Linked DNA regions of Homo sapiens: region 1 is linked to region 2. The links come from fine-mapping of genetic effects on gene expression. A gene starts in region 2. The other region holds a variant in brackets. All regions are shown on one strand. Distances are between the middles of the regions.

Region 1 (4,382 bases), 27 kb after region 2:
GAGAAGGCATGCAGATCCCTACATGCTTAGACATGTGACCATGCATATGCCTATATATGCATTGATTGATGTGTGTCTGTGTTTATATGCGAGTGCACCTGTAGTACTAACACACGTACACTTGTGTGTGTACACACACACACACACACAGTGTTCATGTCTGTCCTTGTCTCTGCTGTGGCTCAGCCAGACCCTGGCTTTTGCCCTTGGCGTCCCCTACCCCTGCCCCTGTTTCAGGAGTTGGGCCCTTCAGGTGCAGGTGTTTCGGGGTGAGTGTGTTGTGGGGGCTGCCGCAGGGATGCCTTCCCAGCCTCTTAGACCTCCCTCCTCCCTGCCCACCCCAGTCCTTTGCCCGTATCAAGAAGTGGCTGGAGCACGCACGCTCCTCACCCAGCCTCACCATCCTGGCCGGGGGCAAGTGTGATGACTCCGTGGGCTACTTTGTGGAGCCCTGCATCGTGGAGAGCAAGGACCCTCAGGAGCCCATCATGAAGGAGGTGACTGGGGTGGGCAGCCTGGGGTCCAGAGGAGGACAATCCCACCGGAGCACAGCACACACACAGTTCTCCTGGAGACATTCTCCCATTTCACAGATGAGGCCCTAAAGGGAGACCCTAAAAGGGAATGCCTCCGACCGGGAGAGAGTAGAGCCAGGTTTTGAGCTCAGGCTGCCTAACTCCAAATCCGGGGCTGTGTCCTTGACCCTGGCTGGGGTCTGAGCATTTCCAGTGCCCTCAGCAACCACGTCCACTGCAGCCATCATAATGGCTGACACTGATAGACTTTTACTGTGGGGCCAGCTGTGGCTGAGCACTTGGCTGAGATGACGTGGGTGTTACTGTTCCCATTTTACAGATGAGAAACTGAGGTCAAGGCACTTGCCCAAGTTGGTAGTGCAGGGCTGGAGTGTGCCTGAGAAGATCTTCCCCCCAGCCCCTTGGTGGCAGAGGGAACCATGAACCCTTCTGGAGGGAATGGTATCTCTGGGCAACTCTCATGCCAGCTGCTGCTGGAAGCCTCTGGGACCTGGACCCTTAGTTCTCCGGGTGTGGGTTTGGCAGGGAGAGCCAGAAAATGTTTGCATCTTTTGCCGGCTTGTGGTGGGATGGACAGGACAGGGAGCTGGGCACGTTGCTGTCCTGGAGGGAACCCAGGAGGAGGCGACACCTGACCCTTCTTGCAGACACTGAAGTGTAAACTGAGGCCCAGGGACTGGGGAGAGGGTGAGCCAGAGCAGGGGCACTGGGAGGGCTCAGGGCCCTGGTCCCTGGTCCCGTGGAGGGTCTGACGCCGGGGCCTCTCTCCTAGGAGATCTTCGGGCCTGTACTGTCTGTGTACGTCTACCCGGATGACAAGTACAAGGAGACGCTGCAGCTGGTTGACAGCACCACCAGCTATGGCCTCACGGGGGCAGTGTTCTCCCAGGATAAGTGAGTGGCCAGGCCGCAGCCCTGGTGCTGTGCTCCGGGTGTCCTGTCCGTGTCCCCATCCCCACCTCCTGGACGTGGTTCCCAGTAATAATGCTGCCCCTACCTTCTCTCTGTCCCCTCCCCTCAGCCCAGACAGGCAGCCAGGGCTCGCCACATGGGCCCACAGCAGCAGGCTCTTTGTTGCCGGTACTGGTGGTGCCGGTGCCAGGG[T/C]GCCACTGGGGACCAGTGGATCTGAACCTCTAGGGGCAGGGCTAGGAATTGGTGTCTTCGACTGGCTCTGCGGGATCTGGTGTTGCCCCACTGAGTGAGGTGATTGTCCCATGCTACAAAGCAGGGCAGGCCAGGGGCTGCAGAGGCAGGATTCGAACCTGGGTCACATGAGGCTAAACTTGAGGCTTCGCCTCTTCTTTCCTCCGTGGCACTGGTTGCCCCCATGTCTGCCTCTATGAGAAAGTGGAGGTGAGCTTGGAGAGGGAGGAAGGGTGTGGGCCTGGGAGCTGGAGTTTCCGCTGCTCCTGAGGGACAGGAACATTGGACCAGGACAGGCCACTCCCTTCAACTTCGCAGTAGCCCTGTAACGAGGCGTGCCAAGCCCCTCCCCAGAGGAGGAAGCTGGGCTCAGAGACTGGGTAACCTGACCGAAGGCCCACAGCCAACAGCTGGCAGCATCCCTCATCCCTGACTCGGCCTCCTGTTGAACCTGGAAAGCCAGTGTGGGCTGGAGCAGGGGTGTTGAGGCTGGAGCTGGGGCTGGAGGGGAGATGAGCTGGTTGCTCTGTCACCACTGCTCTGCTTTGTAGGGACGTCGTGCAGGAGGCCACAAAGGTGCTGAGGAATGCTGCCGGCAACTTCTACATCAACGACAAGTCCACTGGCTCGATAGTGGGCCAGCAGCCCTTTGGGGGGGCCCGAGCCTCTGGTGAGTGGGTCCCCCTTCCCACAGGGGAGCTGAGTTCCTGGTGGGAGACCCTAGATGTTACGTCTCGAGGGGCTTCAGAGTAATAGGAAGGATACCATTTACTGAGCACTTATTGTGGGCCAAGCAAGTGCACTAGCTCAGGGTCCTTTCAGCAAACTCGTGAGCAAAGGGACTATTCTTCCCATTTTACAGAGGAGGAAACTGAGGCTCAAGGCCACATGACCCTGGTGGGATTGTAATTTTGGCTCCAGCAGCCGCACTTTCTGCACCATAGCCAGTGTCCCTTAAGTCCAACAACCTCTACTTCACAATGGGGAACTGAGGCTCAGGAGGAGCAATGGCTTGCCAAAGGTGACTGCTCCTGAGTGGCAGAGCCAGGGCTGAACCCAGGCGTGCTGGGGTTTCCCACACCGACCAGTTCTCCAGCTCTTGATGGATGCTGGCTGGGTGTCCTACAGTTTAACTTGATGCTCACTGCCTGGGGTTAGTGCAGACCCCACAGGTTAAGAACTCAGTCCCGTAAGACTGACCCCCCAACTTCAGATGCCAATCACAAGTACTGGGACCCCAGGTTACCCACACCTTGTCTGACTTTGCGACGCATTAGAAGCTCCCATGATGCCCTCTTGAGTTTTGATACGTTGTTAGAACAGCTCACGGAACCGAGGGGAAGCGTGCTTACTATTACCCATGTATTGCAGAGGGTATTTTAAAGGATACAGATGAACAGCCAGATGCGCAGACACATAGGGCAAAGACTGGAAGGGTCCCCGGCAGGGGCACCGCCGTCCCCCTGGAGTTCGGGCTGTGCCACCCCCTTGGCATGTGGACGTGTTCACCAATCTGGAAGCTCTCCCGACCCTGTCCTTTTAGGTTTTTATGGAGGCTGCATTACACAGGCACGATTGATTCAATCATTGGCCATTGGGGTCGACTCAACCTCCAGCCCCTCTGCCCTCCCTGGGGCTGAAGGTTCCAAGCCTCTAATCACAGGGTTGGTTCCTTTGCCAATCAGTGCCATCCTGCAAGAGCCCTCATTAGCATAAACTCATGTGTGATTAGAAGGGGCTTGTTATGAATAACGGAAGACACTCCTTTCACCCCCATCACTCTGGAAATTCCAAGAGCTTTAGGAATTCTGGCTAGGAACCAGGGGTGAAGGCTAGATATGTACCTCTTATGGCACCCCAGGACCATGCCAAGTCCCTGCCTCTCAGTCTAGTGTTCTCTCCACGCCACACCCTGCCTCTTAGACATCCTCGCATCCCAGCAAGGATGCAAGGCTGGGTGCGACTGGAGAGAACAATGGAGGCTCCCCACAGACTGGAGACTGGAGGCAGGGTCTCCTGTCCATCCCTCTGGCTCTTCTGCATGCCCCAAGCTTGGCAGCAGGCTCGCTGCTGGCCGCTACACTGCTGGTCCGTTGATTCCATCATCTCCTCCCTTCCCCTTCTGCCCAGGCTGTTGCATCTTTTCAGAGAAAAACAGAAGTGTCTTTTCCGCAGGAACCAATGACAAGCCAGGGGGCCCACACTACATCCTGCGCTGGACGTCGCCGCAGGTCATCAAGGAGACACATAAGCCCCTGGGGGACTGGAGCTACGCGTACATGCAGTGAGCCCCTCTCGGGCTCCACCGTCCAGCTGTCTGTCCGTCCAGGTGGCCGACCTCACTGCACAGACCCCACTCCAGCCCCTCCACCCCTTCTTCATGCACAGCTGCCTTTCTATAATCCGGGCTTGACTCCCTTCTTACCACTGTATTCTGGCCTCTCCCATGCCTCAGGCTCTGGTTTGAGATCGTGCTGGGGAGGAACATGGCCACTACCCCTTATCCCATCGGCCATGTGGGAGGTATGACCCTGGTGCCTGGCAGGTTCTCCCTCTGCCCTCCACTGGGCCCAGTGGCTCAGGGACCTGGGGAAAGGAGATGGAGCAGCTCTTGGGATCCTTTGGGGAAAAGGAGGCCATTCTGGGCCCCTTGGCAAACCTCACCACTCACAGAGGCTCCTGGCCTTGATCCCTGCCCCTCCA
Region 2 (4,307 bases):
AATTAGCCATAAAATAGGGGATTTCATATCACCTGTTACATTTGTAGCTCACAATAAAAGCTTTGGAAGATGACAAAGCAGGAATCATTACACACATTTTACTGAAGGGGAAGAGAGGACATGAGACATCACAGGCTCAGTAACTGGCTTGGCCTGGTTTGGAACTGATGTCCTTTTAACCACAAAGCCCCCATTTTTCCAGGCTCTCCAACGTGCCCACAGGAGGTCACCTTCCCAGGCTCTGGATTTGACAGTAACCAATGTTCTAGTTTTTCTTGTCAATGGGCATGTTCAGGGCAACATTGCCCAAATGTGAACTGAGCCCACCTGTCTAGGGTTTTCTCCAAAGGTGAAGACAAATAGCCGCCACCAATTCCAATTTGCTTTTTGCCATTCCTAATACTTGGCATTTAGGTAATCTCCCTCTCCTACTCTTCATTTAAATGTTTACATTCTCCCAAAGTACCTCAAATGGTGTAATCTGGAGAAAAATAAGTGGCTTAAGATCACGGGGGCTTTGTGAGTTGGGTACTATTACTTCCGTTTTACAGATGAGGAAACTGAGGCCCGGAAAGGATATGTAGTCTGCCTAGTGCCCTGCTTGAGGAACCAAAATCAGCATGGGAACTGACTCCTAAGCAGGTGCGCGGTTCATGCTGCTGGAAGAAATATAAACAAATTAGAACAGAGAGTAAGGAAACGTAACATTACTTTAGGAATAGATTGGGTCCCTGAGACCTCGTCATCAGAGAAGACTTCAGAATCCAAGTTTTAAATAGCATTCTAGTGTTTACCAAGCACACAACATTTTGCAAAGAAAGCTGAAATTTTTACTTGGGGGTAAAAGGCTCAGGAACAACTGGTTTTGCGGCCAAAGGCTTTAAATGAAAAGCTAAGCGTTGGCCAGCTCAGGTTTTATCTTGCATTGATCGTAATCTGCAAGGAAGCTAAGAAGCTGGCCGGCCCCGCGCCTGGAGGGTAGGTGGAGAGCGGCTGGGTCCTGGCCAAGAAGCTGGAAGGCAGGCTCATTCCAGGGGCCGCAGCCCCCGGGAAGAAGCAGGGGGCTGGCCGCGCTGTGGCCCTGCGGGGTCGAGGAGTCTGGTAGCGGACAGGTTTCCAGCCTTGTACAAGCCACCGGCAGCCCGAGAGAAGTCAGTCGGACTCCCATCGAACCCGGGGCGCACGCCAGAGGGCCGGACGCAGCGAGTCCTTCTGCCCCGCTTCAGCACGTGTCCCATTTCGGTTATCTCATTGGCTCTATTCAGCCCCTCTCTGCTCCGCTTTGGAAGGCTGCCGCAGGACCGCCCCGCTGATTGGTTCAGAAGCTTTGGTGTGTCACTCTGACTGGTCGACAGAGTTCACGCCCTCTCTCCCGGGTCATACCATAAAGAGAGGAGGGGAAAACGCATGCATTTCAGGACTTCGCTTTCGGGTTCCCTTGTCCTGTGTTGTGTAATGCCCCCGTTATGGCACTAGAAATATTTTTTATTAGCCGAAGCTAAATATAGTGGGACTTTGGCTGATCCCGAGCTCGGAGGACAGCCGGGGTGATCCGTTTCCCCCCGAGGATCGAGGTGGTGCGCTCTGGACGGGGTTGTGCATTCTCGCCGCGCCCGGGCGGACGATCCAGCGAACAGCCCCGCTTCTAACCCGAGATGCTGCTGCCGGCGCCCGCGCTCCGCCGCGCCCTGCTGTCCCGCCCCTGGACCGGGGCCGGGTGAGTGAGCACGGGGCCCGGGGCGGCCCGAGCGCGCGCCTGGGGCCCGGGAGCCTGAGAGTCACTGGGCGTCCCCCGCGCCGCACTCCCTCCCTGCCGGACCCCCAAGCTGCCTCGGTCAACGCCGGGTTCCTCAGGGGCTCCCCTCCGACCCCCACCCAGGCCTTTCTCCCACTGAGATCCCTTAGCCTCCTCCCTCAGGTAGTCACCTTCCTTTAGCGAGGGGACCCCTCTTCCCGAATCCTGCGACCGAGTAGGGTGCCTCGGTGGCCCTGCCGGTTCCCACGCTCGGAAAGTAGCCTCTGTAGTCACTCACCTCACTCCTAATACTGGATCTTCGCAATTTGCTGGCTTCCCCTGAGGGGCCCTTCTATTTTTAGCACACCACACATCTCACTTCCCCACCCTCGTCTCACGTTCAGTGTCCCCATCCCGCCCCGGATTCCCCGAGTCCTCTCCTTCTACCAGGATTTCTACCTCTCTCTTTTCCGCTCCCCACACACCCCGCCGCCCGTTTTTTTTTTTTTTTTTCAAGTTAAATGTTGGACAGAAAAAAGGATTCCTTTCTTCTTGTAGGTGGAATAATCATATTTATAGAGTGCTTATAATGAACCAAATGCTGGCCGGGCAATTGGCAGGTGTCTTATGAGGATTAAATGAGTTAATACATGGGGAGTGCACTGAACAGTGCCCAGCACAAAGGCAGCGCCCGGTTATTATTATTGCCACGATCATCATCATTATCACCTCTATTTAAACTTCTCACTCCTGTGAGGCAGGTCATTATTCCAAATAATGAAGAAACCCAGGAGCAGTTCAGGGGTGGACCTGCCCTTCAAATCCCGATTTGCAAACCTGACATTGTGGAGCCAGGTGCCTGGACCCTTGCCCACTCAATGACAAATATTCTCAGAGCCCCTCCAGCTCGGAGCTAGGTTTGGAGAGGTAGGTGGGACACAGACCCTGCCCCAGAGGGGTTCCTAGTCTGGTGGGGCTGCCCACCTGTGGATCAGCCCCCCCTCCCATTTGAGGTTTGTTTGCTTGACCCCTGGGGCTGTTAGTGGCAGTGTCTTTCCTGATGAGCTGTGCCCTTTCTGAGTTAATCAGTGGCCCTCTCCCTTCCCCCAAGGGATGGCATGGTGGTGCTCTGAGCACAAGTGAGTTGCAACACTGCTGTGTGTCCTCTGTGGGTGAAGAGGGGATAGGAAAGGGCGCAGGAAGAGGACATGGGACAGAGGGGTTCCTCTTCTAGGCTGAGACTGGGGCCACACTTGCCATACTCCCTGTGTGATCCCGTTTGCAGGCCTTCCCTGCACTCTGAGACTCAGGAAGATGGAGCTTATAGAGTCCTGTGTTTACTGAGTGCCTACTGTGAGCTGGTGCTCTGCCAAACACCCTAGAGATGAGGGGTACCCAGGGAATTTACATGGGGTGGGGCCTTTGAGGAGTTTTCGGCTTAATAGGGGAGAAATGCATAGGAAAACCCTCCAATATCTAGTAGAAAGCAATCCATATTCTAAAAGATAAGCCCATGATAACAATAATGATTATCAAGCAATCAAGCACCATGGGCCTAACACCGAGCCGGTAAGTACTGTCTCATTCCTGTATTATCATGGGAAACGATCTGCCATCAGAGATATATGACTGAAATTACATTTGGTCTAAATCCAGATTTATGCTCTGAATTATGAGGCCTCCTGAATTGAGAGGGGAAAGAGAAAGAGCATTTTGCAGCTGGTTCCCTGGGCTCAAGTTACCCCTTTGATACAGCAGCTGGCCGCATGCCCTAGACAGGATTTCTCAACCTCACCACTATTCGCATTTGGGGCTACATTTTGGTTGCTGTGGAGTCTGTCCTGTGCACTGTAGAATGTTTAGCAGCGTCTCTGGCCTTTACCCGCTGCATGTCAGGGGCACCCCCGGCCCTGACAATTACGAAAAAAACCCTGGCCCTGACAGGAAACACAAGTTCCCAGACATTGTCAGATGTTACCTGGGGGACAAAAGTCACCTCCGGTTGAGAGCCAGTGCTCTAGAGGAACAGCTTTGATGTTTGATCACTTGTTCATTTACTCAGTGAACATTTAGAGCACACCCGTGACATGCCATGTCTGCATTTATGGAGAAACAGTCGCAGGGCATTTTCAGTGACATCCCTCAGTGTCCTACGTGTAAAACTCTAGTCCTGAGAAAAACCGCTGCTTTTGAGGAACGGGTATAGGAGATGCTTCTTAGTGTTTTCTTTTTTGCCTTGAGTGCCAGGAATCTCTGCTAGTTTTAAAAAATACCCTTGATACATGTTTTCTTTTAGTTTAATACATGTCAACTGTGAAAAGTACAGATAAGGCAAAAAAATAGAAAAATCACCTGGAATTGTACCACACAGAGGTACCCACTGTTAACATTTTGATTCATGTCCTTTAACTTTCCATGAATAGATATGCTTTTAAAAAAAACCTCATAGAAACAAGCTCATCTGCCCATACTTTATTGTAGCTTGTTTTTTCCCTTTATACACTTGTCTGCCTTACAGTATGTTCCCAGGCCCTGGAACTGTGTCTGGCACCTGGTAAGCCCTTGGCAAACA

The links. PIP is the estimated chance that this variant, and not a neighbour inherited with it, causes the effect.
Region 1: its variant is the best candidate, but not a certain one, in a credible set for the expression of ALDH4A1 in lung (TOPMed, PIP 0.88).

Annotation. Positions count from the first base shown.
Region 1 is chr1:18,872,430-18,876,811 of GRCh38, reverse strand. It overlaps ALDH4A1 (aldehyde dehydrogenase 4 family member A1), which reads left to right. Exons shown (of 15, transcript NM_003748.4): 12 at 345-497; 13 at 1,309-1,430; 14 at 2,231-2,349; 15 at 3,855-4,382. The coding sequence ends at 3,967. Among named protein-coding and RNA genes, the nearest start is that of MIR4695, 8.7 kb to the left of the region's middle. RefSeq lists enhancers at 916-1,415, 1,223-1,517 and a silencer at 1,331-1,420. The variant T/C (reference allele first, on the strand shown) is at 1,641.
Region 2 is chr1:18,899,872-18,904,178 of GRCh38, reverse strand. ALDH4A1 (aldehyde dehydrogenase 4 family member A1) reads left to right here and starts at 1,624. Exons shown (of 15, transcript NM_003748.4): 1 at 1,624-1,717. The coding sequence starts at 1,656. LOC124903866 (a long non-coding RNA gene) reads right to left here and starts at 2,066. Exons shown (of 2, transcript XR_007065519.1): 1 at 1,927-2,066; 2 at 808-1,369. RefSeq lists enhancers at 571-1,388, 1,328-1,557 and a silencer at 1,638-1,857.